4 linked regions of the Homo sapiens genome follow. The protein of the gene in region 3 purifies or fractionates together with the protein of the main gene of each other region. This does not show direct contact. Each region holds a gene or a part of one and is shown on either strand. Other genes may lie near its edges. The genes, in order: MACO1, LSR, PCDHAC2 and ST7.

The links.
Region 1: the proteins of PCDHAC2 (region 3) and MACO1 purify together in Homo sapiens (co-immunoprecipitation; 3 studies listed by BioGRID and IntAct, with this or other methods). This does not show direct contact.
Region 2: the proteins of PCDHAC2 (region 3) and LSR purify together in Homo sapiens (co-immunoprecipitation; 3 studies listed by BioGRID and IntAct, with this or other methods). This does not show direct contact.
Region 4: the proteins of PCDHAC2 (region 3) and ST7 purify together in Homo sapiens (co-immunoprecipitation; 3 studies listed by BioGRID and IntAct, with this or other methods). This does not show direct contact.

Annotation. Positions count from the first base shown.
Region 1 is NC_000001.11:25,426,051-25,433,918, reverse strand, and holds the start of MACO1 (macoilin), read right to left. Parts: upstream 3,023-7,868; 5' UTR 2,821-3,022; coding exon 2,741-2,820; intron 1-2,740. Other genes in the region: RHCE (blood group Rh(CE) polypeptide), read left to right, coding at 3,727-3,979. UniProt on the Homo sapiens protein: Plays a role in the regulation of neuronal activity.
Region 2 is NC_000019.10:35,244,590-35,252,022, forward strand, and holds the start of LSR (lipolysis-stimulated lipoprotein receptor isoform 2 precursor), read left to right. Parts: upstream 1-4,412; 5' UTR 4,413-4,433; coding exon 4,434-4,542; intron 4,543-5,725; coding exon 5,726-6,070; intron 6,071-7,433. UniProt on the Homo sapiens protein: Probable role in the clearance of triglyceride-rich lipoprotein from blood. Binds chylomicrons, LDL and VLDL in presence of free fatty acids and allows their subsequent uptake in the cells.
Region 3 is NC_000005.10:140,969,476-140,976,497, reverse strand, and holds part of PCDHAC2 (protocadherin alpha-C2 isoform 1 precursor), read right to left. Parts: exon of another isoform or gene 7,018-7,022; intron 1-7,017. UniProt on the Homo sapiens protein: Potential calcium-dependent cell-adhesion protein. May be involved in the establishment and maintenance of specific neuronal connections in the brain.
Region 4 is NC_000007.14:116,949,242-116,956,506, reverse strand, and holds the start of ST7 (suppressor of tumorigenicity 7 protein), read right to left. Parts: upstream 3,007-7,265; 5' UTR 2,967-3,006; coding exon 2,816-2,966; exon of another isoform or gene 2,173-2,815; intron 2,047-2,172; exon of another isoform or gene 1,828-2,046; intron 1,534-1,827; exon of another isoform or gene 1,354-1,533; intron 85-1,353; exon of another isoform or gene 1-84. UniProt on the Homo sapiens protein: May act as a tumor suppressor.

The sequences.
Region 1 (7,868 bases), on a different chromosome or scaffold from region 3:
ACCAAATCTTACAGTATTTCCTGCCTCCTTAAAAAATTAACCACACGTTAAACTGTGATAGCAACAACATGGTAAATAGTATCTGTAAACTACACTAGGATTTATAAAGCATTTCACAAACTGTACATATCTCCTTTAGTCCTCAAAACTCATTTGAAGGTGGGAGAACTGGGGCTCAAAGCTGTGGATGCCCTGTCTGCCTAAAGCAGCAGAGCTGGGATTTTGAGTCTGATCCTGGGTCTCCTGATTCCTGCAGTCCAGTGCGCTTTTCACCACAGCTGCCTCCTTCCTATGCCAAGGCTCAGAAAGTTGTACAGACTGAGAACATGAAAATAGTAAGTCCATGAAAGGTTTGGCTATGAAACAGTAGACAGTGGTTATCAAAACTGTCAACACGGCCCCAGAAAAAAAACAAGGCTCTCTGTTTAATGAATCCAAAATTGGCCACATGTTGTTGAGAAACAAAATGGGCAATAGATGGTGTGAAAAACAACTTAGCATAGACTTAAATTTGATGATCACCAGAAATTTGATATTCATGAATCCTCAAGCATTCTAGTTTATAACCAGTCCACTCATCCTGTTTGCTTTAGAAATAACAGGAAATTTTTCTAAATCTCTTTAAAAACAGAATTGGGCAAAAAAAAAAAAATCTTGTTCTTCAGTCCAATACTCCATAATATAAACCAAGAAACAGATAAGTGAGTTGAAACGCTCATTTGATATATGATACTCCAACCAGGAAAGACAGTTAGAAATACATTTAGGTCTTTTATTAACATTTAACTTAAAGAATGCAAAACAGAGAAGCATAAGAAGATTTAAGGCTAATGCACTGTCGGTTTTTAAAATTTTGCAGATGAACCTCTGAATAACTTGCAAAGAGTATTTACAATTAACCTTTAGGGTAAGAAAATTCAAATTTCAAAAGCCATCAGTAAGATGATAAATCTTCATTAAACGATGAATTCACTTCTTCACATCGATTCACACTGAGTAGCTATTATGGCGCAGGTTGTAAACTGGGTCTATTTGTTCAAGTACAGAGAAATGGAAATACAGCAGAAAACACGTAAACAATATGGGACTCTCAATCTTCTTGCTATAAATGGAGGTACATCATCTTATGTTACTGTAAATAGCAGCTATTCAAATGCCACAGTTGTGCTAAGTCTACCAACTCGGTTTAATATCCCTTTCCTATTTTTATGTTACCATTAATGTTAAGTTGGTCAAATATTTTTCAATAGCCAAAGGGGAAAAACTTTCTTTAATTCAAGAATGTATAGTGTATGTAACGTGAATTGAAGAGACCTTTCCTCCATCTATGTGTAGAAAAAATTGTTTGCTTTCACAGTTCAAGTTAAAATGGTCAAGTTCGATTCATCCAGCATAGATTAGAGTCTGTTTTACTCACTGCTCTATCTTCACTGATTAGAAATGTTCCTGGCACATAGTATATATAACTGATGAATGAATGAATTACTCCTATGCTCTATGGCTCATTTTATAAGAATATACCCAAGAAATTTTTACTTTGATTCCTTAATGCTTTTAAACTTGAAGAAAATCCCCAGTGTTTACATCAGTCAGCTGCTTGTGGAAAGCAATCATTCCACATCTGTAAACAAGAGCATGTGCAAGGTGTACAGTTATGTTAAGACAACTTGGGTGTCATCAGCTACCTCACATATTTCTTGAAATCCCACAGCTAGAGAAGCTAATTGTAAAACACCATGAGGACTCAATTAAGCCTACATCCACATGCTGAGAATTCTTCTTTGTAAACTAATTACTTCTCCACCGAAATCTGTATCAAGGCAAATACCATTTACAAGTAACATTCTGAGAAGAACCAGAAAATAACAGTCGTACACAAATCGACTTGGGGAAGCTATGATAGTAAGTTGCCCCATGAACCTGTTGTCTTTCTCTACCGGTGGACTGAATTCAATTTCTATTTAAAGGGACACTGCTTTTCTTGCGGATGAAAAAAAAAAAAAAGAGTTTGGAGAAAATCCCTTTTTAAAAACGTTCAAAGCAAGCTATCTGCTTGGAATTGTCAAAACAATATTTGCTGAAAAACTGGTCATCAGACCCTTCCGAATCTGGAGCAGGGCCACAGGGCATGATTTGGGGGTATCAGCTTCAGCCCTGGGTGCCAAGTTTGAGATCCCATATGGGAAGCAGAAGGTGAAAGAAGTGACAGCATGGCCCCAGGCCAGTATGCTGGCAGCTTGGGGGAACGAGGGGCCACAGTGGGCTCTCAACTTTGTCAGCCTCCCCCACCCCCCCGCGCTGTGGTCCACGCGCCTCCTGGCTCCGGCCGGCAAGCCCCCAGGCCACCGGGGGGCTCGGGGGCCAGCGGCGGCCAGTCAGAGGTCCCGGAAGCGGCCCTCCCGGCCCAGCGGCATGGCCGGGATGCTGAGGAACGCCGGGCTGGTTGGGGGCTCTCCGCCCCTCCCCCCGGCGGGCCCGGCGCTTCCAACGGCGGCGCGGCGGCTCCCTCAGCCAGCGCCCGCCGCGCCCTGCCCGCCCGGCCGGGCCGACCCTCGCCACGCCCCGCGCACCCGGGGCGGACCCCGGCGGGCGGGCCAGCGGCTCCGGGGCCAGCGCTCCTTAGGAGAGCCCCCGGCGCGGGCGTGCGGCCTACTCGGGGTTACATAACGGGGCCAGGCCCCTCGGAGCTGGAGGGGGACCGCAGGGCCCGCGCCCGCGGAGTGGGGGTGCAGCCGCTCACCTGCCGTAAATGCCCTCGGTGATCCGGTTCCGCTTTAGGGGGCGGCGGAGCTTACTGCAGTCGGCGTTCCGCCGCTTCATCCTCCCGCTGGGGGGCCGGGTGCCCGCGCCGCCGCCGCCGTCTCTCACCTCAGCTGCCGCCGCCGCTGGCCCGCCCCGCGTCGGGCCTGGACTCTACCCCTGAGGCCGGTCACACAGACATGGAGCCAGCACCCGGGGGGAGGGGGTAGCACGGGGAGGGGGGGCTCGGAGCCTCCTCCGCCTTCGGAAACAAAGAAATGACAATTCCGGGGCCCGCCCGCCCAGCACCAGCCAGCCGCCTGCCCCGCCTCCTCGGCTCCGACGGACGGCCCGGGAGGCCAATAGAAGCCACCGGTAAACCGCTGTCGGCCAATCCCAGGGCCCGCTGAGGCAAAACTGACTCTAGAACCCGCCCCTTTGAAGGACGGAAGAATGCGCCAATCATTATAGTGTCTGGGTCCCCGGCTGAGCCTATCAGAAAAGATTTAAATAGAGGCTTATAAATAGGCCCTATAAATATAACATCCTATATTACGCCTTGTTGCGAAGGTATGCTTTATTATTATTGGGTTGCGTTTCATTGTATTGTAATCCCTACTAGAGCATACCGTACGGCATGGCATTGTAGGCTCTCGTCTAGCAATGTATGAAATCGGAAGGCCCGGGTTTGCGGCATGTGCGGTGTCTGCGCTGACGTGCGCTTCAGCCAGTCGCGTCATTATGTAAGGGAGCATCCCAGGAACAGCGCCGGGGACCCTTCTGCGGATGCTGGAGAGCTCGGCCAGGCCGACCGCGTCAGCGCGCACCGGGGGTACGAATGACAAAGCAAACCCCACACGCACACAGACACACACCCTGCCAGCTTCCCGCGACGTGGTGACAGCGCGCCGGCCAATCGGAGGTGGCGGCCCCGCCCCGGGTTACGCCACGGGGCGGAGCCGTGGGGGCGCGCGACGTAGCGCAGAGATGCCCGGGGCGTGTGCGGCGGTGCGGCCCGGGCTCCACGTCCACAGGCTGGGCAGCGCTGTGGGCCCCGCGGGCGCCGAGTCCGCAGGACCCGCGAGGGCACTACCGCGAAGCATCGGCCTCCGGGCCGGGCCGGGCCGGACCGGGAGCCTGCTCGGCGGGTCCGGGCTCCTGCAAGGCGGGGACGCGGGGCCGGCGACCCTTCACGCTTCGTACTCATTGAGCGCCGATTTTATGCCAGGCACCGTGCTGGGTAATTTGCGTGTATTTGCTCATTTACTCCTTATAACTCCCCTGCCACGTACGTATGGCAAAGTAACACTTAGAAAAGTCCGCATGGTGTTTTTTTTTAAGAGAAATAAAAAGAATGTTTATCATTAGAGAAAACTGGGGAAAATGTAGGAAAGTGGCCGAAAAGGAAAAAACACCAATGAGTCTCATCACATTAACACAAATACAGTTGACATTTTATTGTATTTGCTTGTTTTCCAATTTTCCCCTATGGATGATAATGTTACTATTGCTATTAAATAGAATAGTGGTCATACTAGAATAGTAGTCATACTAGAATAGTAGTCATACTGTTTTTAACATAAGCATTTTTACATGTTTTAATGCAGCTTTTATAAATATTTCTGAAAATATTGCAGAATGTCCTATCCAGTAGCTTTATCAGTGTAATCCCTCAACGACAATGGGGCAGTTAGTCTTCCAGTGCATTTTTAAAACTTCCCAGGAAGGGCTGGGCGCGGTGGCTCACGCCTGTAATCCCAGCACTTTGGGAGGCCGAGGCGGGTAGATCACGAGGTCAGGAGATCGGAGACCATCCTGGATAACATGGTGAAACCCCATCTCTACTAAAAATACAAAAAATTAGCTGGGCATGGTGGCGGGCACCTGTAGTCCCAGCTACTCGAGAGGCTGAGGCAGGAGAGCGAGACTTTGTCTCAAAAAAAAAAAAAAAAAAAAAACTTCCCAGGAAGTAGATGCCATTTTGTTTTGTCCTGGGTTTCACAGAACTCTCTCTGGCCTGTAATCACCCCTCCCTTAATCAACATCTACCCCAGGGAGAAACTTTACACCAAATGCGTTGTCCTCAATCATGACTCTGTGTTACTTTCTTCTGCTCACAAACCTTCAAAGATCTCCCAGTGCCTGGAAGAGAAAACCCATTCTGTTTCGAAGGGCATCCAGAGCTGGTCACAGTGGGGACCCACCCTCCTTTTCCAGGCTACGCCAGGCAAGCAAACCGTTTTTCTCACTATCCTTAAATCCACTGCAACCGATCTTTCCCCCTTCCTGCCTCTGCCCCAACACAGTATCTCTGTCAGTGCCGCTTCTGGTGTGTGGTTTCTTAGGCAAGGCTTATCCATCCACTTAGGCAAAAAGCTTCTTGGAGATCAAATCTATACCCTGCAGAGATACAGTTAAGAAAAATGGCCAAAGTACTTGCTTTTTCAGAGTAGGGCTGAAATTCTAGCTTGGCCACTTACTAGCTTGGACAAGTTACTAAATCTCTCACAGTCTGTTTCCACTCAGGTTTGTTTTAAGGCTTGGAGGACAATGAGCCTTCAGAGCCAGACAAGCAGTAGGTAACAGAAAGTAACTGCTGTTAGCAGTATACTTGTTTCTCATGCCTTAATTCTACTTCAGTATATTGATCAAGTGGCACCGGGTGGCCAAGAAAACAAACTCTGTGAGCTCAAAGTTTCACCAAGGCCTGCCCATCATTGAGAAAGGATATGAACAGAATGCTATGTGTGGAGCAGTAGAAAAAAGCCTTCAGCTGCCAAGGCAGATTGGTTCACTGAGGAAGATACAGGTGGGAACCAAATCAAAATGGAAGCTTAAAGGCGTTGGGGAGCGCAGGAACAGGTACATGGTAAAGTCCGGGCTCCAGCCTCCATGGGAACCCCAGACTTGAATATCCCTCATCCCCATGACTGCAGTGTTCCAGATTACCTGGGCCAGAGACTAAGTGGGATGGTTAGATGAGTAAGCCAAAGAAAAGATGAGAGGCACTGGGGACACATGCCAGCTTTCTGAGGCTCACTGTCTAGCCTACTATTAAATAGACCCTGACAGGGCATCTCATGCTGTGGCAAAAGTGCGGAGTGGCTGGGAGCAATGGAGGTTGTGGCTGAGAGTTACTGTTGAGCTCTAGGACTATGTGGAAGCAGAGAAAGGGCAGAGAAAATCTGAGGGTGATGGCTGACAAACAATCTGAAGGTCTGGAGGTCTAAGTTCCAATCCCAATTCACATGGCAACTCACTAGTGTCCTTGGTTGAGTCACCAGCCCACCCTGTGCCAAGATCTCCTCTGGAGGTGGTGCTTCTAGTTCTATGTTTAGAAGCAGATTGTGCTAGCTCCATTTTACAAATGAGAAAACTGAGGCTGAGAGGAAACAAGGTCACATAATAGGTGTGGTAGAGCAATCTAGCTCAAAGCACAAGCTGAGCAAGCTGTGGTGCCTGTATATAGCTATTGATGGGTAGAGTTGGGGTGAGATGATGGGAATGGCCTTCTTGCCAAGACCCAAGGAGAGGCCAGAGCAGGACTGCCCATCTCCATACTCTTCCTCTTTCACTCCTCCAGACCCAGCTCTTTTTTCCATGACCCACTCTAGCACAAGCCCTTTTGGCTCCAGCCAAGTGCCAGCCTTTTTCCTCTGAGTCCTGAAATGGCCCTTTGGGATTCTAAGGGCACAGAAGTGGGCCTCCTGCCAGAAGGCCCCAGCTCCCCACACCTTCACCAGTCAGGAAGCAGAGATCAGCAGTGGCCATTTTACAAATGAGTGAAACAAGGAAGGGAAGTAATTTGCCCTCATTCAAAAGACCAAGGCCTACAGAGGAATTTAGGCTTGTCCCTCCTTCTGGGACTTTCTGATGAAGGGATTTGCACTTGGGCTTCAGCTGAGCCCAGAACAGCTCTAGAGGCCAGATCATTAAACCCTGTTTCACATATAAGGAAATGGTATTCCCACCTCTGTCAGCCCGTTCAATCCCCGCAAGCCCACTAGCTGTCTTGAGCTTTGTTCCTGCCCTGTAAGAATCACAGAAAAGTCCAAACATTTCGATGGCCACCTCTTAACACATGTACCTGTATCCCCTAGAGAAACCTATTTTTTTTTTTTTTGAGATGGAGTCTTGCTCTGTCACCCAGGCTGGAGTGCAGTGGTGCATTCTCAGCTCACTGCAATCTCTGCCTCCTGGGTTCAAGTGATTCTCCTGCCTCAGCCTCCAGAGTAGCTGAGACTATAGGCACACGCCACCACGCCTGGATAATTTTTGTGTTTTTAGTAGAAATGGGGTTTTGCCATGTTAGCCAGGCTGGTCTCAAACTCCTGACCTTAGGTGATCCACCTGCCTTGGCCTCCCAAAGTGCTGGGGTTACAGGCGTGAGACACCACACCAGGCCAGAACCATGTTAATGGAAGATGTTCACTGTAGTGTTTAGAACAGGGCTAGTTTGGGAGAGGACTGACCAAACACTTTATCACATATCCTTACCATGGAAGTCAGTGTGGCATGGAGGATGATTATACACAGCACTAACTATGGCAGCCGCCACTCCAAGTATCAGATACATTTTGTTTTAATCCTCACAACAATCCTATGAGATAGAGATTACTAGCACCATATTACAGATGAGGACACTGTGGCACAGAGGAGTTAAGGCACTTGCCTAAGGTCACATAGTAACAGAGTTGGGAATTCAAATCCAGGCAGTCTGCTTTCAGTGCCTGGGCTCTTTAACCACCATGTTATATTGTTGTAGAAAGATTTTCCTGGCTTGGAAACTGCTTATGATATAGAGTTCATGAAAATAGCAAGTTACCAAACAGTATGTGCTGTGTAATCCCATTTTTGTAGGGAGAAAAACAAGGCCTAAATCGACAGGAATAGAAAAACATCTGAAAGGATATACACTCAAAACATAGTGCTGGTTTTTGGAGAGACTGAAATGGACATTTTATGTTAGCTTTATGCATCTGTATTTTCAAAGTTTCTACAGTAAACTTGCCAAGCTTGTGTGATAATCATAATTGCTAACATTTATGGAGTGTTTTCTACACATCTGACACTTTATGCACTGCCTCGTTGAATCTTCACAACAACCCAGTGAGATTGACACTGATTTT
Region 2 (7,433 bases), on a different chromosome or scaffold from region 3:
ACATGATCATCTGAATTAATACAGAAAAGGTATTTGACAAAATTCAACACACCTTCATGATTAAAAAAAAAAAAACAGAAAACTAATCATACAGGGAAAATTCCTCAATGTGATAAAGGGTATTTATGAAAAACTCACAGCTATCATCATACTCAATGGTGAAAGATTGAAAGCTTTCCCCCTAAGATCAGGAGTAAGACAAAGATGGCCATTTTCACCATGGCTATTGAACACTGTATTGGAAGTTCCACCCAGAGCTATCAGACAGAAAAAGGAAATAAAAGTCATTCAGATTGGAAAGAAAGCAGTAAAACTATCTCTATTCACAGATGACACGATCTATGTATAGAAAATCCAAAAGAATTCACAAGACAGCTACTACAGTTAATAAACAAGTTGCAGGGTACCAGATCAACACACAAAAATCAGTCATGTTTCTATGCACCAGCACTGAACAATCCGAAGAGGAAATTGAGAAAACAATTTCATTTACAACAGCATCTAAAACAATTAAATACTTAGGAATAAATCTAACCAATGAGGTGAAAGACTTGTACACTGAAAATGACAAAAGATTGCTAAAATAAGGCCTGGCACGGTGGCTCAAGCCTGTAATCCCAGCACTTTGGAAGGCCGAGGCGGGCGGATCACGAGGTCAGGAGATCGAGACCATCCTGGCTAACACGATGAAACCCCATCTCTACTAAAACTACAAAAAATTAGCCGGGCGTGGTGGTGGGCGCCTGTAGTCCCAGCTACTCAGGAGGCTGAGGCAGGAGAATGGCGTGAACCTGGGAGGCGGAGCTTGCAGTGAGCTGAGATTGGGCCACTGCACTCCAGCCTGGGTGACAGAGCAAGACTCAGTCTCAAAAAAAAAAAAAAAAAAAAAAAAAGATTGATAAAATAAATTAACAAGTATCTAAATAAATGGCATAAATGGCAAGATGTGTTCATGGATAGAAAGACTTAACATTAAAAATGTCAATACTACCCAAAACAATCTACAGATTCAACACAATGCTGATCAAAATTCCAACGTCTTTTCCCAAAGAAATGGAAGCAGATCCTCAAATTCATATGGAGTTTTAAGGGGCCCCCAATAACCAAAACAATACTGAAAGAGAAGAATAAAGTTAGAGGACTCACACTTTCCATCTGTGAACTTACTACAGAGCTATAGTAATTAAAACATATGGTACTTGCATAAGGATAGGCGTATAGATCAATGAAATAGAATACAGAACCGAGAAACAAACCCTCACATATATGATTAATTGATTTTTGACAAGGAAGCCAAGACCACTTAATGGGAAAAGGACAGTGTTTTCAACAAATGGTAGAGGGAAAACTGAATATCCATATGCAAAAAAATGAAGTTGGACCCTTCTACCACATACTAAAATTAAAATGGCCCAGGCCGGGTGCAGTGGCTCACACCTATGTGAGCACTTTGGGAAGCCAAGGCAGGTAGATTACTTGAGGTCAGGAGTTCGAGACCAGCCTGGCCAACATGGTGAAACCCCATCTCTTCTAAAAATACAAAAATTAACCCAGTGTGGTGGCATGCACCTGTAATCCCAAATACTCGGGAGGCTGAGGCATGAGAATCGGTTGAACCCGGCAGGTGGAGGTTGCAGTAAGCGGAGATCACACCACTGCACTCCAACCTGGGCGACAAAGTGAGACTCAGTCTCAAAAAATAAAATGAAATAAAATAAAGTGGCTCAAAGACTCAATTTAAGAGTTAAAACTATAAAACTCTTAGAAGAAAATATTGTTGAAAATCTTCATCACATTGGACTTGGCAACAACTGCATAAATAGGATACCAAAAGTACAAGGAAGAAAAAATAGTAGGTAAATTGAACTTCATCAAATTAAGAACTTTTGTGCACCAAAGGACACTATCAAGAAAGTGAAAAAACCTGGAGAATGGAAGAAAATATTTGCAGATCATATATCTAACAAGGGATTAATATTCAAAATATATATAGAACTCCTACAACTTGACAACAAAAAAACAAACAACCCAATTCAAAAATGGGCAAAGTACTTGAATAGACACTTCTCCAAAGAAGATATACTAATGGACAATAAATTCGTGGAAATATGCTCAACATCGTTAGTCATTGGGGAAATGCAGATTACAACCACAATGAGATGCCACTTCACACTAACCAGGATGGCCATAATCAAGAAAATGGATAATAAGTTTTGGTGGGGATGTGGAGAAATTGGAATCCTCCGTGCATTGCTGGTGGGAATGTACAATAGTGCAGTCATTGGGGAAAACAGTTTGGCAGTTCCTCAAAAGGTTAAAAATAGAACTACCAAGTCACCCAGCAATTCCATTCTTAGGCATATATTCAAAAGAAATGAAAGCAGATATTTGTACACCAGTGTTCACAGCTGCACTATTTACAATAGTCAAAAGGTAGAAACAACCTAGGTCCATCCACAAATGAATGGATAAATAAAACGTAGCATATACATACAATGGTACACTAGTCCGCTGTAAAAAGAAATTTTGATCTTACTGCATGCTACATGGCTTCGACATACTACAACATGGATGGACCTTGAAAACATTATTCTTTGTGAAATAAACTAGACACAGGACAAATGTTAGACGATTCCACTTATATGAGGCACCTAGAATGGGCAATTTGGTAAGCAAAGTAGAATAGAAATTACTAGGGGCACAGGTAGCAGGGAATGGGGAGTTACTGTTTAATGGTCACAGAGTTTATGTTGGGGATGATGAAACAGTTTCGGGGATAAAGAGTGGTGATTGGTACACGACATTGTGAATATACTTAATGCCACTGAATTTTACACTTGAAGTGGTTAAAGCGATAAATATTATAGTTTGCATATTTTATCATAAAAATATTTTTTTAAACGATGAAGGGACGTGAACGGGTTGAAATTTTATAAAAAGTGGCCAGGGAAGGTGTCACTGCAATGGTGTCCTACAGGAGGAGGAAGATCATGTGGACATCTGCGGGAAGGGTGTTCTGGCAGAGGGAGTAGCACGGGCGATGGCTCTGAGGACTGTGAGAAGTATAGTTGGAAACAGCGAGGAGGCCAGGGTGTCCGAAGCTGAGTAAGCCAGAGAGAGTGGGAGGAGGTGAGATAAGAGGGGGAAGGTCAGTTTCTGCTGAGAGTGAGGAGGAGCCACAGGAGGGCTGTGAGCAGGTGGACGTGATCTGGCTTGAGTTTTAACAGGGCCAGTAGAACAAAGCACGCCTGGGTACCGAAACCAGCCACTGGCCAGTTGGCAACCTGGGGGAGTCTAACGCGAGGAAGCGCCCAGGGTTCCCCCAGGATGCGCTTTCCCTCGCCGCCACCTGGAGACAGCAGAGTCACGCCCAGCGCTGCGCAGGCTGATCGCCGCGCCGCGCCCCCGCCCTCGGTCGCAGGTGGCTCGTTCCGGGAATTCCTAAGCGGAAACCGGTCCCAAGCCCCGCGCCTTCGCTCGGCCCCTTTAAGAGCCAGAATTTCCGGAGGGCTGACCCGGGGGCTAGGGATGCCCAGGGGCCGAACCACAAGTTGGGAACGGGTGGGGGAGGTGGCGAAAACTTCCGAAGTGGAATTCCAACTTTTCCTGGCCCTGATTCCCCTTGGGCATCCCTGAGGGGGCAGAGCTTCCCTTCCGGGGACTTTAGAGGGTTCCTCAGGTCATCTAACTGGGAGACACAGGAGGCCCGAAGCGCCCCCCCTCCACCCGGTCCGGAGGAACCCCAGTGGAAGTGGAGAAGTCAGGCGCCACCAACAAGCCTCTCCCAGCCAGGACTTTGCTTAGACTCGCTCCTCCCGGCAGGGCGCACCTAGGCGGGTCCATCGCCAGCCGGGGAGAGGGGTTTGGGCAGGGAGGGAACAGGTGCGCGGCGGGACCCGCCCTATCTCAACAGGTGAATCGCTCCAAGTGGGTCTCGGTTGCATGGATCTCGGTGCGCTTGGTTTGGCCGGAGCAGATGGGGGCCGGAAGGGACCTGTGGTCCGCAGGCGCCCTCCCAGCGGGCCAGTCACTTGGTTCGGGCCCTGGGGGACGGAGCGCACCTGGGTCAGCCCACTTCCGGGGAGGGAGGCAGAGGAACCCCTCCCCGCCGCTCACCCCTAAGCCCAGCCCTCGGCTCCCACCCTTGTGTACCTGGGCCGAACCATTCACCGGAGCGCGCAGCGGGTGGAGTGTGGCTCGGAGGACCGCGGCGGGTCAAGCACCTTTCTCCCCCATATCTGAAAGCATGCCCTTTGTCCACGTCGTTTACGCTCATTAAAACTTCCAGAATGCAACAGGACGGACTTGGAGTAGGGACAAGGAACGGAAGTGGGAAGGGGAGGAGCGTGCACCCCTCCTGGCCTTGGTGCGCGCCGCGCCCCCTAAGGTACTTTGGAAGGGACGCGCGGGCCAGACGCGCCCAGACGGCCGCGATGGCGCTGTTGGCCGGCGGGCTCTCCAGAGGGCTGGGCTCCCACCCGGCCGCCGCAGGCCGGGACGCGGTCGTCTTCGTGTGGCTTCTGCTTAGCACCTGGTGCACAGGTACGGGGCACGGGGCCTCTGACGCTGCGGAACGCCGGAGGGAACTGTAGAGGGGGATGGATGGAGTTGGAGGCGGCGGGAAGCGGGAAGCGGGGGTCTCAGAGGCTGGGACCTTCCGATCCCCTGGGTCTTGGGCGATCTGTTGCGCGCGGGAGTGAGAGGAATTCCCCATTTGTGCCGGGGAGCGCTCCCCGCGCCCTTATCTGGAAGATAGCAGGAAGTGAAACTCCCTGGACGGTGAGACCCGGAGCGGCAGGGAGAATGGAACTCTTTGTGGGGAGGGAGTGGAAGACCGCCCGATCTCTGGGAAAAGAAAAGCCGGGATGGGACTTGGGCGCACCCGGGGATTTCTAAGTTTTGGAGTAACGGGGAGAGGGCACGGGAGGGCTGGATCAGACGCTTCCTAGAGGGACAGAGACGAAGGAACAATGCCTAGGCCTCGGGTGGGTGTGGGACTGGGGACTCCCCATCCCCCGCACCCCACCCACCTCCCGCGGGCTCCGGATTATACGTGCGTAAGAGTCTGGTGGGATGGATTTACGGACTTGAAACCGACTTCTGCTGGCAGGCTTTCACCTGGATGGGATATTTGGGTGGTGATGAGGTCTTTCCCGAGACACTTTTGGTTCAGTCATTTGAAATGACTTTAGAGTAGGGTGAGGTGGTGGGAGGCTGATGGAGATATTGTGGGGGCTTTAGTCCCTCCATGGCAAAGCAGTTCAGGCAAACAACTCCATGGTTTTCCCTCCAAATTCAAAAGGCCCCGGGTAACCTGGAATCCTTCGTAGTCGGTTTTGAAGTGGGGCCTTGGGCGCTGGGGGCATCAACATGGCCATCTGGGCTTGCCTGCCCAGGCCACACAGAGGCCCCTTGTTGTGGGTGAATGGCAAAGGGAAGAGGGGACTGGTGTGGTTCAGAGGCCACAGGCTGGGAAGAGGGATGGCGGGCGAGTCCAAGGAAACTGGCCGTGTCACCGTGCACCTGCCACTTCAGCCCCACGGGTCTATAAAATGGGCATGATTATCGTGGCTACCTCACTGGTCCTGGCAATTAAGGAACAATGTGTGCCAGGCACTCTGTAAACCACATACTTGCGAGTGTCAAGCTGGTGACAGGTGGCGTTCCTGTTGAAGCACCTCCCTGAGCTCACAGCAACCCTTGCTGTCTCTCCTCTTGCCCTCAGCTCCTGCCAGGGCCATCCAGGTGACCGTGTCCAACCCCTACCACGTGGTGATCCTCTTCCAGCCTGTGACCCTGCCCTGTACCTACCAGATGACCTCGACCCCCACGCAACCCATCGTCATCTGGAAGTACAAGTCTTTCTGCCGGGACCGCATCGCCGATGCCTTCTCCCCGGCCAGCGTCGACAACCAGCTCAATGCCCAGCTGGCAGCCGGGAACCCAGGCTACAACCCCTACGTTGAGTGCCAGGACAGCGTGCGCACCGTCAGGGTCGTGGCCACCAAGCAGGGCAACGCTGTGACCCTGGGAGATTACTACCAGGGCCGGAGGATTACCATCACCGGAAGTATGTTGGGCAGGGCAGGGGGATGAGGCTGGGCTTGCCCGGGTGGTGGGACTGGCGTCCTTGTGCGGGACCTGGAGTCCCCATCTGAAAGCTCTTGAGTGCCAGTGTCTGAAAGGACCATTGAAGGGAGCAATTCTTTTTTTTTTTTTTTTTGAAGATGGAGTCTTGCTCTGGACTCCAGGCTGGAGTGCAGTGGTGCGATCTCAGCTCACTGCAACCTCCACCTCCCAGGTTCAAGCAATTCTCTTGCCTCAGCCTCCCGAGTAGCTGGGACTCCAGGTGCGTGCCACCACGCCCAGTTAATTTTTGTATTTTTAGTAGAGATGGGGTTTCACCATGTTGGCCAGGCTGGTCTCAAACTCCTGACCTCAAATGATCTGCCCGCCTTGGCCTCGCAAAGTGCTGAGAGACACCATACCCAGCCTAAAGGGAGCGATTCTATTCTACTATTCTTCCTTCTGCTAATCCTTCCATTCTTTAATTTAATAACGAAGATTTTTTGAGTACCTGTCATATACCAGGTGCTGTTCTGGGCCCTGGGAATACAGCTGTTAACAAAATCATCAAACCACTTCCCTCGTGGAGCCCACATTGCAGTGAGAGAGACAAACACGACACACACTCTCAAGTCCTTGAAGATAAAGAAAACTGGGTAACGGAGAGAAGAGGCCAGGGTTTGTTCTATAATCATTAATAACACGAGCAGTAAGAAGTAAAATTTATCTAAGTAACAACTTATAAAGGGTCTACTGTGTGCTAAGCTCTCATCCAGGTTCCCAAGGATTAACTCAGACCACACAGTAATTGAATAGATTCTATCATTGTCATCTTACAGAGGCCCAGAGAGAGAAAGTGACTTGCCTAGTGTCATAGCTGGTAACGGGGCTGGGATTCTAACTCAGCCACTTTGGGTCTAGTGGCCAAGCTCCTAATCCCTTTGCTTGCCTAGGGTGGTCCGCAGAGGACTCACAGAGGAGATGGCAGGAGTGAACTGCAGGGGCAAGAGAGCTTAATGGAGAAAGCCTGTGACATGCCAGGAACTGCACACATATTCTCCCATTGAGTCCTCTCCTCTACCCTCCTGACAGCTGAGGCACAGAGAGGTTACCTTGTTCAAATGGGTGCATAGGAAGTCAAAGTCTGGAGCTGGGGTTTGAACCCAGGCAGCCCTGAGAACCTTGTTCTTTTTTTTTGAGACGGAGTCTCGCTCTGTCGCCCAGGCTGGAGTGCAGTGGCGGGATCTCGGCTCACTGCAAGCTCCGCCTCCCGGGTTCACGCCATTCTCCTGCCTCAGCCTCCCAAGTAGCTGGGACTACAGGCGCCCGCCACTACGCCCGGCTAATTTTTTGTATTTTTAGTAGAG
Region 3 (7,022 bases):
CTCCCTGCAACCTCTGCCTCCCGGATTCAAGCAATTCTTCTTCCCCAGCCTCCCTAGTAGCTGGGATTACAGGCATCTGCCACCGTACCTGGCTAATTTTTGAATTTTTAGTAGAGATGGGGTTTCACCATGTTGGCCAGGCTGGTCTTGAACACCTGACCTCAGGCAATCCACCCTCCTCGGCCTCCCAAAGTGCTGGGATTACAGGCTTGAGCCACTGTGCCTTGCCAAAAGTCTGTGTTTTAAATAAATTTACATGAAATGACATATATTTTTCTTCTTTCTCTTTTTTACTTCTGAGTTTCCAGGATATTGATTTAAAACAATACAAAACTAAAAGTAGTAAAATGTACATGAGTTTCATCCAGAACTTGATTAAACTTGGAAAAATTCAAGTTGAAAAGTTGACTACTGATATATCTGACACAGTAAGACATATATTACTATCACAATTTCAATCACAGTTGAAATAACTGTGATTATTTAGTTCTTTAATACTTAGATGGTACCTCCCAGGACTATGCTTACTTTCTATTGGTGAAGAACTCTAATATGTCCTATTGCTTCAAAGGTTAGTCTTTTGGTAGAATAATGGTCACAAAACTCCATATGTGGAAAAAATCAATTAGGTAGTCCATATGGGTGATGTAGTATTACTGAAGAATAAGAATACACTTCAGTTCCTATTAAAATTATAAAAAAGATTTAATTTATCTTGTAATGGTATTATCTGTGATTTATGACATAGAATATTTGAGCTACAGAAGGATGAATCACCTCTTCTAAGATTTAAAGTAAAATAAGTTTAAAATACCCTATTTTATTAATAAACTCACACAACTACTCAATGAAATAATATGCTATCTTCGTACCATGGAAATCCATGTGGAAGACATCAACAAATTGCCCTCTGGGACATGAGACTGCATATAATATCTCCTTTTCCTTCCTAATAGGACTGTATTAAGAATATATCCACTGCAGATTTTGCATAGTGCTATTTTATGAACATTGATATAAACTGATAGGCAGAATTCCAAGATGGCCCCAAGATCCCTATATCCTGGTGTGCACACCCTGAATAGTCTCCAAGACTGTGATTGTGATGGATCTTATTCCCATGATTACATTATGCTATGTAGCACAGTTGGCTTTAAGAAAGGGAGATCATCTGGATGGGACTGACATAATCACATGAGCTCTTTAAATCTGGGTCTAGAGGTCAGAGACAGAAATCAGAGAGATCTGAAGCATAAGAGGGATTCCATGTGAGGGAAGATTCTCCAGTGCCAGCCATGAAGATGGAGCAGACCATGGGACAAGAGTCCTGAGTCCTCAGTTCTCTAGGAACTGAGAGTGACCCCAGGCCAATAGTAAGTAGGAAAACAGAGATCTCAGTCCCCAAACAACTGGATTCTGCCAACAATCTGAATGAGCTCGATAGTAGATTCTTCCTAAGAGCCTGCAAAGGACAACACAGCCCAGCTGTGTTCATTTCAGCCTTGAGAATACCTGAGCGGACAACTCAGCCACATGGTACAGGACTGTGAGATAACAAATAGGTGGTGTTTTAAACAACTTACTTGTGGTAATTTGTTACAAATCATCAGAAAAGGGATACATAGACTGTTCCGCATTAAGGCAAAAGGGAATATAACATTTAAAATAATCATTATGTTGCATATTGGTCTTCTAGTATATCAAAATGAGGGCTGGGCGCAGTGGCTCATACCTGTAATCCCAGCACTTTGGGAGGCCAAGGTGGAGACAGGAGTTCGAGAGCAGCTTGAACAACATGGTGAAACCCAAAAATACAAAATTAGCCAGGCATGGTGGCGCATGCCTGTAATCTCAGCTACTCGGGAGGTTGAGGCAGGAGAATCGCTTGAACCCTGGAGGCAGAGGTTGCAGTGAGCCAAGATCATGCCATTGCACTCCAGCCTGGGCAACAAGAGCAAAACTCCGTCTCAAAAAAACTAAAATAAAATAAAACACAAAGGTAATACATTTGAGAATTCTGGGTGGAATACTTTCCTCTGAATGTAGTCATTTAAAATGCTAATTTACAAACCAGGAAAGTAAAATAAACATAACTTTAGAACATACCTAATGGGTTCCAGTACAACAGAAAGTGCTAGGTCTGTTTAGTTCTGGATGCATAGCCTGCTAGCACAGCAGCTACTCTCTCACTCACAGTTGTACCTCCTTGGAGCCCAGAGTTCTGACCCTGGAAGGCCAGAAAGGAACTGATGGTGCTTATATGCCAAGGAACTAAGATTTCTCTTTACCTTTGCAATGTTGGATATTCCTTTGCATTTGTCAAGTTAAAATTCTTGAAAGAAAAACCCTTGTATAGTTTTCAGGTTAGCAGATTTAAAACACTGCAAAAGAATACTTTTAACCTTTGATTTTTGAAGTCATGGTTATAGATTATACTGCTCCAAATATTATCATATTAATAAGCTAAATTTATAGTTGTATTATCACATGCACAAAACATTGATCCAGGTGAAGTTCTGTAAAAGCCACATTTAAAGACACCTGTAAAATGCCATCATATTCAGCTAAACCTCTGGGTTTGGTGACAGGAATGTTTCCTCAAACATTTGCAAATTGACATTATTCTGACCTCTCATTGAGAGCAAAAATTGGTAGGCAACAAGCAAGTACCCAGAACTGACTTTGCTATTCTGTCAAGTAGACAGCATGCCAATAGGCAACCTATAATATGCCAGGCTGTGTCCCTGCAGAGTGTTCTGAGTTAGACCAGATGCCCATGTGATGGCTCACTCCTGGGTCAGAAGGAAACAGTAGGCCAATGACATTCAAGCTACAATAAATAGATTTCTTCTTCAGTCAGAATGTGTACAAGATACAGAAACAGAGAAGAGCTCAGCCATAATTCCATCTGGCTCAGCAGTCTGTAGAAAAATTGAGGAAAGAGGTAATTGAAATAAATTATTGTATCATCAGACCAAAGAAAATAAACTTTTTCTCAGAAGAAGAGTCCTGTGACCAATATGAAATTTGCAAACTAAAACAGCCCCAGTCATTATAAAGTGACCATCAGAGGATGAAAAACTGGAGTGGAAGCTCATAGATATGATTTCTTTGTCTATTCTGACCATTGTGCAATTTTTATAAATTCACTACTATGTCACTTTACAACGAGTGTAAACTCTGTTCCAGGATAGAGTCATCAGATAGAAAAATCAGTGCTGGGGGAAATAAAAGTAGGTGCCACTGAAAGAAGAATTAACTCTTTCAGGTCACTATACCTGGAATTAGGGTGAATATGCACACATAGTGGCAGAAATAACTGAAGGTTTGGTGACTACAAATTGCTTTAAAATAAGTGAAAGTGAATGCAAACTTAATTCATCTCTGCTACTCTTTCATAATTTCTACATGTTGTGCCAGCTGGGCCCACTGAGACACTGTTGGACAAATCTACTAGAGTACTCAAAGTGACTCATTAACAATCACAACACCACGACCACAAATGCACAGAATCTACCTTAAGATTTGGTTTCCTTTGCCGGGCATGGTGGCTCACATCTGTAATCCCAGCACTTTGGGAGGCCAAGGCGGGTGGATCACAAGGTCAAGAGATCGAGACCATCCTGGACAACATGATGAAACCCCATCTCTACTAAAAATACAAAAATTAGCCAGGCGTGGTGGCGCGTGCCTGTAATCTCAGCTACTCAGGAGGCTGAGGCAGAAGAATCACTTTAACTTGGGAGGCGGAGGTTGCAGTGAGCCGGGATTACGCCACTGCACTCCAGCCTGGCAACAGAGTGAGACTCCATCTCAAAAAAAAAAAAAAAAAAAAAATTTGGTTTCTTTTTATGGAGACTCTGAAGGGAGTGCCAACAACATTCAGTATCAAGTTCAGAAATTTCCAAAGAGAAATTCTGCCCTATTGCCAAATAGTTACTTCAGAATCCTCACTGCACAAGTGATTTATGAAATAAGCTCACTGGGGGTAAAATCTACCAACAGATTAGAGTCTGGGGTTAAATGCTGATGTTTAATAAGCAACAAGAGAAAAATCAGTGAAATAATAAAAATAAAAGATCTTAACAGGGTTTGCCAATAGTGAAGCAAATAAACAAATACAAATATACTAACAGCATGTGCAACATAGTGAGACCCCCATCTCTTCCAAAAAAAAAAAACACCTAAAAACTAGTCAGACACGGTGGCGCACATCTATGGTCCAAGCTACTCAGGAGGCTGATGTGTGAGGATTGCTTGAGCCCAGAAGGTCGAGGCTGCAGTGAGCCATATTCACACCTATACTCCAGCCTGGGTGACAGGCCAAGACTCTGTCTCAAAAAAATAAAAATAAAAAAATAGTAGTAACTCACTGATATTCCCATTTGTTACCTGCTTCTATGCCAGAAATTACTCTTTTTCCAAAAGCAGTTAATATATACGACTAGGTGAATTAGTGATAGCTTAAATGCCTGAATATCCCATATAAAAGGGAATATAAACATTGGAACTTCTGTCTACTCATAGTATTGAAAAAAAGTTTTTGGAGTCAGATGGATACAACTTAAAATAACACTAGCAGTGTGGCTGTGTAGATTACCTAACCTCCCTGAGCTTATTTCCTCATATGCTAGATGTTAACAAATATTTAACGCATGACTTGCAGGTAATGAAATCATATATGTATTCAATATTATAATATTCAATATATTGAATAATCTTGAATAATATTCAAGATTCAGTAATATGAGATATATGTATGTGTATATGTATGATATACATATATCTATATAGCAGGGTGGTTAGTGAGTACAAATTCCCTTACTCTTCCTCTCTAATTCCCATCTACTTTTAATGTAGGCACATGGTACTAATTGTACCCCAGGACTCTCCTGCCATCTGTAGTAACTAGGTAGGAAAAAAAGAAAGCCCAACATGGGAATTTAACAGGTTGATCTGGCAATGATGACTTTCAGAACTGAGTGGCTTTTGCTCCTATCTTGCCACACTGTAACAATGTGACACTCTCTCCCTATAACTGCAAAAATTTCTGGAGCTGTAGATCTTGGGGTTCTTCACTGGATTTCCAAAAGTGCCTGGCAGAAATTTGCCTTTATTAAAGTCATGCACTCTCCTGGCAAAATCTCCCAAAAGCAAGCACTTTCTGAAATAATTTTCTCCCTAGATTAAATGTTTGTGTACCAAAGTACATATTAATATACAGGTCAGTGTAAGACAGAAATAGTTTATGTATCAAATTGCCCCAAGCTTTGAGTCAGGAGAGGGAGGGTAACAGTGTCTTTCCTCTGAGCTTCCGGCTTACAGCTGGTGGCAAAGCTGAGCCTGGCCTGACTTGTTCATGCCTCTTCACCACCTGTAGCCCACCCCAATCCCAAAGGGCTTCACAAGAATTTGTTAAGCAAATGTCTACAGCAACCTTATTTAAAGCTAAACCCTTTTACGTGCTTTCAAATGCTACGATCTAAAGACTTCTGGAAACTCTTTGATTTATTCCCCCATTTTTCTTAATCTACAATCTGCCTCCCATGGTTTCTCAGCATTGACTAACACCAGGCACTTCTGATAAATGAATAAATCTATCTGAAATGTCCATGAGAAAAATCTACTCTCAATCAGGAATGGAACTTTTGTGCCTGTGCATTACATTCCTCAAGATTACCATGAACTTGAAATGTAACAATATGGATATTACATACAATATGTATGTACAGCAATATGTCAATGAAAATATATTGCAAAAAATAGAGGAGAGACAAATATTGTTCACACATTGTGTAGTAGCTCTAAAAGCCCTTTCTACAAAGTAGTTATTTGGAAAGATAACAATTCATCACTATTTATGGTACAAAATTTTGGCTTTTGAAATCCAAGTTTTAAGTATCACAAAGCATATCTCTGTTATTTCAAGCATACATATGGAGACGAACACACAACACAAACACACACACATATTCATCTACTTTCTAATAATTTATGTACATTCTTCATAATAATGAACAAGCTGGCCTTATACCTACTTAAATCTCAAAACTAGTGCATATACTAACACCTGCCTCTACACCTTACTGTAGGGTAAGCCATCCACTTTCCAAGCCAGCCTTTTGAAGCTATAGCAAATCAAATTTTAGATCCAGAAAATGAATGCATGCTTTGGAAGTACTGTCATTTAACTTAAAGACATGAAGGACTTGAAAAGGCTACTTTACATCTCATCAAAACCATAGAAACTGTCAACAGAAAATCAGAAGATTACAGGCTGCATTTAAGCTAAATTCAGGGAAATCCTCTTACAATGAATTCAGAGTATGCCAAGAAAGGTGACTATTGGGAGAATTCTTTTTCCCTTCTCTTCCTTCTAATCCCAGCTTCTCTTGGTCTTCACCATCCCCCCACACCCCTAATCCACTCATTCTAATACCTCCCTGGACCAACCAGACAAATTGGTACTTAATCTCTCTGCCTCACCATCATCCACTCCCTCTGACAGCCCTCTACAGAAGAGTTGCCACATCATACAGCCAAAGCAAACTTTAGCTTCAGTATGATGTCTAAATACTACAGCTTTATCACTTGTGACATGCATTTCCAGAGGATCCTATCACATAGGTTCAGTGCAAGTACCAGAAATATTAACTAGATAATTTCCACTGTAGACAGTCCAGAGTATAAACAGAGACAGCAGATAGTGGTGACTATGATAGCCCCTAGAGGCCTCAGAGCTTTTTAAGAAACATCACTCATATAGGATTTCAAAAGAAAAATTTCCCTGTAGATGATACAGCAGAGGCCATTTCTCCTTGAGTCTCATAACATTACTCCCTAAAACATAATCCCTATTCCAAGGCCTGTCCTGTTTCTCTACAAATCTGTGTTTTAGCATTAAATATTAAGACTAATCCTCACTTCTCAAACAATTTTATGGACAAGGCTTCATGCCTCTGAAAATGAAAAATAAAACAATTCTTTAGTGCTATTTTTCTAGAGAGGAAATAGCAGATTAT
Region 4 (7,265 bases), on a different chromosome or scaffold from region 3:
CAACTCCCTAAAAGCAGCTCCAGATTCAGTAACCTCTCCAGGAACACACTTGCCTTCATCACAGGAAGAGTAAGCACCACAGGGCTGAAGAACAGCAAAGTTAGTCCCGTTAGAACTCTTTTAGACCTCCCTGCAAGGACAAGTTAGACCAGGCTAGCTCCTGCCTCCCCTCTCAGGGGTGCTGGCTAATGACTTCTTTCTCCCTGGGCCTTCCTTGCCAATAACTTCAGTACAGAAACTTTTTCCCAAAGGGGAGGGGAATTGGCAAGGAAAGGAGGGAATTAAGTTGACAACAACCTTTTGGCAGTTTTCCTACTATAACTTCTCACTGTTACTTAAAAGGGAAGAAAATAGGCCTCTAATGTCTGCAACTGTTTTTTGAAAAACCTAAACTGTTCTAGGGTGGTTTGTGGCTATAATTTCATGTCTCAAAATTAATGCCAAAGTCCTCCTCCCACCCCAGATCCTGCTACCCTCTCATAAAAACAGCAGAGAGGTGAGTGCTCTCTGTGTGCTTCCCCTTTTATCTTTCTTTATGACTGAAATGAGCATGAAACCAAACTGAAAAGTCCAGCATCATCAGGTCTTCTATCATGTGTCTAGCAAGGTACAGCCCGGATGGCACGTTCATCTTCATATTTTCGCTATCTCTTAGAACTGCCCCTACACAAATTAACAAAGGCATCTCTGAGAAATGCTAGATTTAAATTGCTAGAAGACCTAACAATGCCCTTCCTTAAGAAGTACACATTTTCCCAGTAGATATTTTGCTTCTTGCCTGATCTGCACAGAGCACTGGATGTGACACTTACACATATATACATGGGTAATTATTTAACCTGATGAAAATGTGATATACAAATGTATATCATGAAATAAAATTTTAAGTGTGTAATAAGGAGAAACATTAATATTTTAAAAACTAGTGTGTTTGAAAATCCCAAGTGCAAAAGTGTTGAAAGGTGGGACCTGTGAGTGGTAATTAGGTCATGAAGGCTCTGCCTTCAAGAATGAATTAATTTTGTTATTGAGGGAGTAGGTTTGTTATAAAAGTGAAAGTGGGCCCCCTCTTGTTTTCTCATGTTCTCTTACCCTTCCACCTTCCACCAAGGGATGACAGCAAGAAGGACCTCCCCACATGCCAGTCCCTTGATCTCAAGACTTCCCTGACTCCTGAACTACAAGAAATAAAATGTGTTCTTTAAAAATTACCCAATCTGTGGTATTCTGTTACAGCAGCACAAAACAGACTAACACTGTTACCAACAAATACGTAATTCCATTAAAACATATATTCAAACAACTTCTTAAAGGTATAGAACTTTGAGACCAGAAGGTATCCTGGAGACATACTTGTCTAAAGCGAAGAAGACAATATTGCGACAAGCAGCCATCCAAAAAGATGAAAAGCGAGAAAGCCATGGTCTTTCCGATGACAGACTCAAAAGGGCTGAGCAGCACCTATTCAAATGGTGAGACAATTCTAGAGTGCTGAATCCTATCCGCCTCCCAGGGACACGATCCCGAGGGATACTACAAAACAAATGTAAATATGAACATGAGTTCAAGTTAGTAATCAAAATACTTAAGTTAGTATCTGAAAGGTACAAGTTTCCTAACAAAATGAGTACATTATCTCAAGCGTTTTAAAAAGCGTTTTAATGCAGCTAAACACCTGAGGAAAATGCATTTCCAGACTTGCACTCCCAGAGTATGGAGATTAACAAGGGAAGATATATATGTGTACATATGTATATATCTTCAGGACTGTAAGAATTTCCCAGTACTGTGAAATTAAAATTTAAAACAAAAACAAAAACACTCTACCTTGAAATTTCCAGATTTAAAGGACTGTAACCCTTAGCTCGAAATTTACTTTGTGTTTCGGAACTCTCTGGAGTGTTAAGGCTCGTGTGTTTTCTTTGCGGGTGTTTTTTTAACGACTCAGTGGGCTGGCTCCAAGTTTGTGAAGATCCTGTTAATTACCTCCTGCATTTACCACCGACCAAGGATGGGAGGCACGCGGCACTTGCTGAGCATATGTAGCTTTACAGGGAAGGGAGACGAGCAAAGATCACTGAAAACTGCAACCGAAACCCTCAGAAATTCCAGCTCTCCCCTCTTCCCTCCGGTCCCTTCGACAATCCATTTGGTGACCTGACACGTCATCCATACACTCCCAAGAGTGCCTTCGGGAACCCCTCTCCCCACTACCCAACCAGAGAGACAGCCCCACGCCCGGCAAGACGCAACTCCGGGCCACGGAGGGCGCCGCCCGGACAGCCCGGCCGGGTCAGGGGGCTTCGCCGCCGAGCACCCTCCGGCAGCCGCCCTCGGGCCTCCGCGGCCGGGCGGGAGGGCGCCTCCCCGACCACACTTCGGCCGCTTGGCACCCACAGCCGGGAGGGCGTGAGGAAGGACTCGGTCTAACTCCGGGGAACCCTCGGAGTTCCGGCGCAGACACCCGAGGGGGTGTCCTGGGAACTCCTTCGCCCGCGACACCCGTTCTTCTCCGTCTCCCGACCACCAGCGACGCAGCAGGGCGGCTGCCGGCCCGGCCCGGCCCGCCTTGCGGGCTGTGCGCGGCGCAGCTCTTCCTCCGCGGGGCCGTGAAGGCCACCGGCCGCCCCCGCGCGCCCAGCTGCCCGGCCCCGCCGCCTAAGCCGCCGCGTTGCTGGCGGGTAGCCGCGGGCCTCCGGTGCGCGGGCCCCGGCGCGTCCCCGAGCGCGCGCCTGGCCGCGGCCCCGCGCGAGTTGCACTAACTTTCCGGGGCGGGGGAGGGGTGGGCGCCGCGGGCCCGGCTCCCAGGCCTTACCTGTGCTCAAGTTGTCGTTGATTTTCAAAGGCACCCGCAGGATGTAGACCAGGAATAGCACGATGAAGAACCACACGGTCCACAGATACGTCCAAGACCAAACTATGCAGGACTTGAGCTGCTCCAGAAAGCCCGTGGCCGCTTCAGCCATGTTTCAGCGCTCCTCTCTGCTGCCGCGGCTCTTGGTGTCTGCCGGGATGATTCACCGGCCCGGAGGCGCAGCTCGCGCCGCCGCCGCCGCCGCGGCCCGGGCGCCCCCGGAGCCCGCCCGCCGCCGGGGACGCGGGCTCGGCGGGAAATCGCGCGGGCCGCGGGCGCGCCGGCTTTTCCTTCTCCAGCCTTATTGCTAACTCTCTAAAGGTCCCTACAAGTGGCTTTCGTGGAGCGATCACGTGGCCCCTGCCCCCTCGCGTTCTGGGTCCATTTATATTTATTATGCTAATATTTAGAAAGAGAAGGCCAAGTGGCGCGCCGAAGGAAACGCCTCAGGCAGTTACAACCCGCATAAGTTGAGCGTTTACCACACGCCAGGCGCTGCTCCACGATCCGTACAATCTCATTTAACCCCTGCAACAATTCCCCACTACGATCCTCTTTCTATAGGTAGGGAAACTGAGGCTCACAGCAGCTGCGTAGTTTACCTTAAGGTGGAACCAAAATTCAATTGCAGTGGTGTATTCTGGGGTCCGAGGTCTTAAACCCTACTCTGCTCCCTTATCAGGATTCAGGCTCAGGGAATGAATAAACCCGGGACAGCTAGGAGAAGGGAGGAGGTGCGCTCCTGTCGCCGGCTAGTAGGCCTGAAGATAAATCACTCTATTCAGCAAGATTTGGGTGGCAGATGCTATTTACCTTTGTTCTGTCTCTTTGAAGCAGCGCAGGGATTTTCCAGAGAAATCTTGACAGATGAATGTTTATCCTCCAGGTTTTTTGGTGATCAGAGGTCAAACTATTCTCAGCCTGTTTTTAATATAAACAATTCTCTGGGATAATTTTGACTGTGAAACGGCCACCTCTAACAGAAAGTCCATTTTAAACATTGTTTTGTTGTTTTTGTTTTGTTTTGACTGTGCTGAATAAAATGTTTCTTTTATTCTAAAATGTTTTCTCAGCTGAAATTTTCAAGTCTGTTTCTGTCCGTAAGTGATTTGACTTTCTATGTATTAGATGGTAATGAGGAAATTGCAGGTTTTCCAGTCTACATCTATTTTTAAAATTCTGAGCATAAAGAATATTTTATTATAAATTGTTTTGCTTACTTGTATAATAGTTTCCTTCATAATTAAATAAGCTCCTTTAACTTTTCACATATAGGGCCTATTACGGCATACATAATGGATGGAACTACTCTTAAATTTTTACTAATTCCAGCCTCTCTCGGCTACTGTTTCTTCCTCACATTTGATCTACTACAGTGAGATCCAGGCCAGAATAAGTGAAATTGGCACACATAGACTTTCTTTATAGTTATTTATGGCAGCACATGACCAAATGATTTTTGTGTCTAACACTGATACATGGAATCTCAGTAAAATAAAACAATATTGTCACCAGTAAAGGATCGTGACTGCAGGTTGTCCAGGTTCTTGGCGTTTTGAACAAAGAATTGGACAAAACACCCAGAGAAGCGACAAAAGAACGAAAGCAGGGATTTATTGAAAACGAAAGTACACTCTACATTGTGGGAGCGGGCGGAGCAGCGGCTCAAAGGCCGAATACAGAATCTTCTTGGGTCCAAATACCCCCAAGAAGTTTCCCTTTGGCAACTCATGCTCATCTCACGTAAATGAAGTGGTAGCCCGCAATCAGTCTGACTGGTTGCAGAAAGCAGCCAACCAGAGGCTGAAATGAAGATACAAAGGTAACACTCCTGTGCAAACATCTGATTGGTTGCAAAAAACAACCAATCAGAGGCTGGGATGTACTTAATGAAGTTATGCTTCTATGCAAACGAAGACTCGCCCACAGTCTGATTAGTTGTGGACAACAACCATTCAGAGGCTGGAGTGAAGTTACAAAGTTGCAAATGAAGATTGGACCCGCAGTCAGTCTGATTGGTTACAGACAGCCAATTTCCCATCTACTAGGCAGAAAAGGTCAAAGGTAGCCTCTGGTCCTTTTGTTACTTAGGCGTGGAAAGTTAGGGTTTTCCTTTCAATGTAGTTCAAGGAAGTCCTTAGTTTCCCTGCCTCCAGAACCTAGTCTCCTGCCTCAACATGAGTACATGAACCACCTATTTTATGTGATGATTAAATAACCCACCAGATTCTCTGCGAGTCACTGAATTAGGATATTGACTACTTAATTTAAATGAACATCCGGAGGCCTGGCTTTTTGCTGTCAATGAACTTCAATGAATGGACATGAATATGACTCCGCTAAGTCACAATCTTCTAATTTTCTACTAGGCGCTCCTGGGAAGTCAGCCCTATATCATTGCCTCTCCTGGTGTGCATCCTGGCATGTGGTGGGGACTGTACACATGCCTTTGTGCTTCAAAACACTTCAAAACAGAAGTGAGTAAGCATAATCTCTTGCAAACTGTGGCTGCTTCAGTATAGCTGGAGTGCAGCCTCTGCAGAGTGGTGTGGATACAGACAAAGCTAAAGATACAGGCCTGAGTCATTTTGAAGGGCCTACTAGAAACGCTAAGGTGTTCATAGTTATGGGGCATTGCACACACCAATCCAAATGACCAACTCAGAGATTTATTTAAGTGGAGATTTAAGAAATATTAAGGAAGTAGATGGCTCACGCCTGTAATCCCAAAACTTTGGGAGGCCGAGGTGGGAGAATCACTTGAGTCTAGGAGTTTGAGAACAGCACAGGCAACACAAGGAGACCTTGTCTGTACAAAAAGATTTTAAAAATTAGCTGGGTGTGGTGGTGTGTGCCTGTACTACCAGCTACTCAGGAGGCTGAGGTTGGAGGATCACTGGAGCCTGAGAGTTTGAGGCTTTAGTGAGCTGTTATTGTGCCAGTCACTCCAGGGTGAGACCTTGTCGAAAGAAAGAGAGAAAGAGAGAGGAAGGAAGGGAGGGAGGGAGGAGGGAGGAGGGAGGAAGGAAGGAAGGAAGGAAGGAAGGAAGGAAGGAAGGAAGGAAAAGGGGAAGGGAAGGGGAGCGAGAGAAAGGAAAGATAGAGAAAGAAAAGAAAGGAAGAAAGAAGAAAGAAGGAAGGAGAGAGAGAAAGAAGAAAAAGAAAGGAAAGAAGGAGGAAGAGAAAAAGGGGAAGGGGAGAGAAAGGAAGGGGAAAGAAAGAAAGAAAGGGAGAGAAAGAAAGAAGAAAGAGAAAAGGAAGGAAGAAAGAAAGAAAGAGGGAGAGGGGGAAGGGAAGGAGGGAGGGAGGCGGGGAGAAGGGGAAGAAGGGAAGAAAGAGGCAGAGAGAGAAAAATAAAGGGAAGGAAGGAGTGAAGGAAGGAGAGAAGGAAGGGAGGAAGGAAGGGAGGGGAGGCAGAAGTGACAGGCCTTGGTGACTGATAAGACAGGCAGGGCAGGCCTGGCGCAGTGACTCACGCCTGTAATCCCAGCACTCCTTGGGAGGCTGAGGCAGGCAGATCACTTGAGGTCAGGAGTTTGAGACCAGCCTGGCCAATATGGTGAAACCCTGTCTCTACTAAAAATACAAAAATCAGCCGGGCATGGTGGCACGCACCTGTAGTCCCAGCTACTCGGGAGGCTGGGGTAGGAGAACTGCTTGAACCTAGGAGGTGGAGGTTGCAGTGAGCCGATATTGCACCATTGCACTCCAGCCTGGGTGTAGCAGTGAGATTCTGCCTCACACACACACACAAAAAAAAACAGGCAGAGCACGGATAAGGGGGGGGCTCTTGAGTGGGACCGTTAATGAAATAATGACACCCCAGATATGCCTAACTACCTCTTGATAATCACCCAGTGGAATGGCACACAATCACCAAGCTCATCACATGCAGAATGGAATGCATTACCTCTTCACCCTCATCTGTTCCTTTTAGAGTTCCATCAAGGAATGGGCACCATCCTTCCAGTTCCCTAATTCAGAAATCTGAGCATCATGTACCTCCTTTCCTCTCTATATTCCACTGTACATCAAGACTCAGGCCGCCACTTCTCTCAGCCTTTGGTGATAGCCTGATCATCATTCATAGAGAACAAGGCAGTGGGCTCCCTGCCTCTATTTGCACCACGGCAAGCACCACCACTGCCTCCTTCCATCCACTTTCCACACTTCTCTACCAGTTACCTTTTAAAGCACAAATCCGATAACTCGTTCCTTGCATAAAATTATTTAAGGCCCCACCCCTACTGCACTCCTACTTTTATCCCAGTGTCTAACTAAAGGATGGAATCTAGATGGTATTCAGGCCTTCTGCAAGGGCACTTCTGCCTACCTTAATAGCACCAGCATTTTGGCAAACATGCTATTCTCTTTCACACTTTTGGACCTGCTCCACACAACCTGCCTGTAA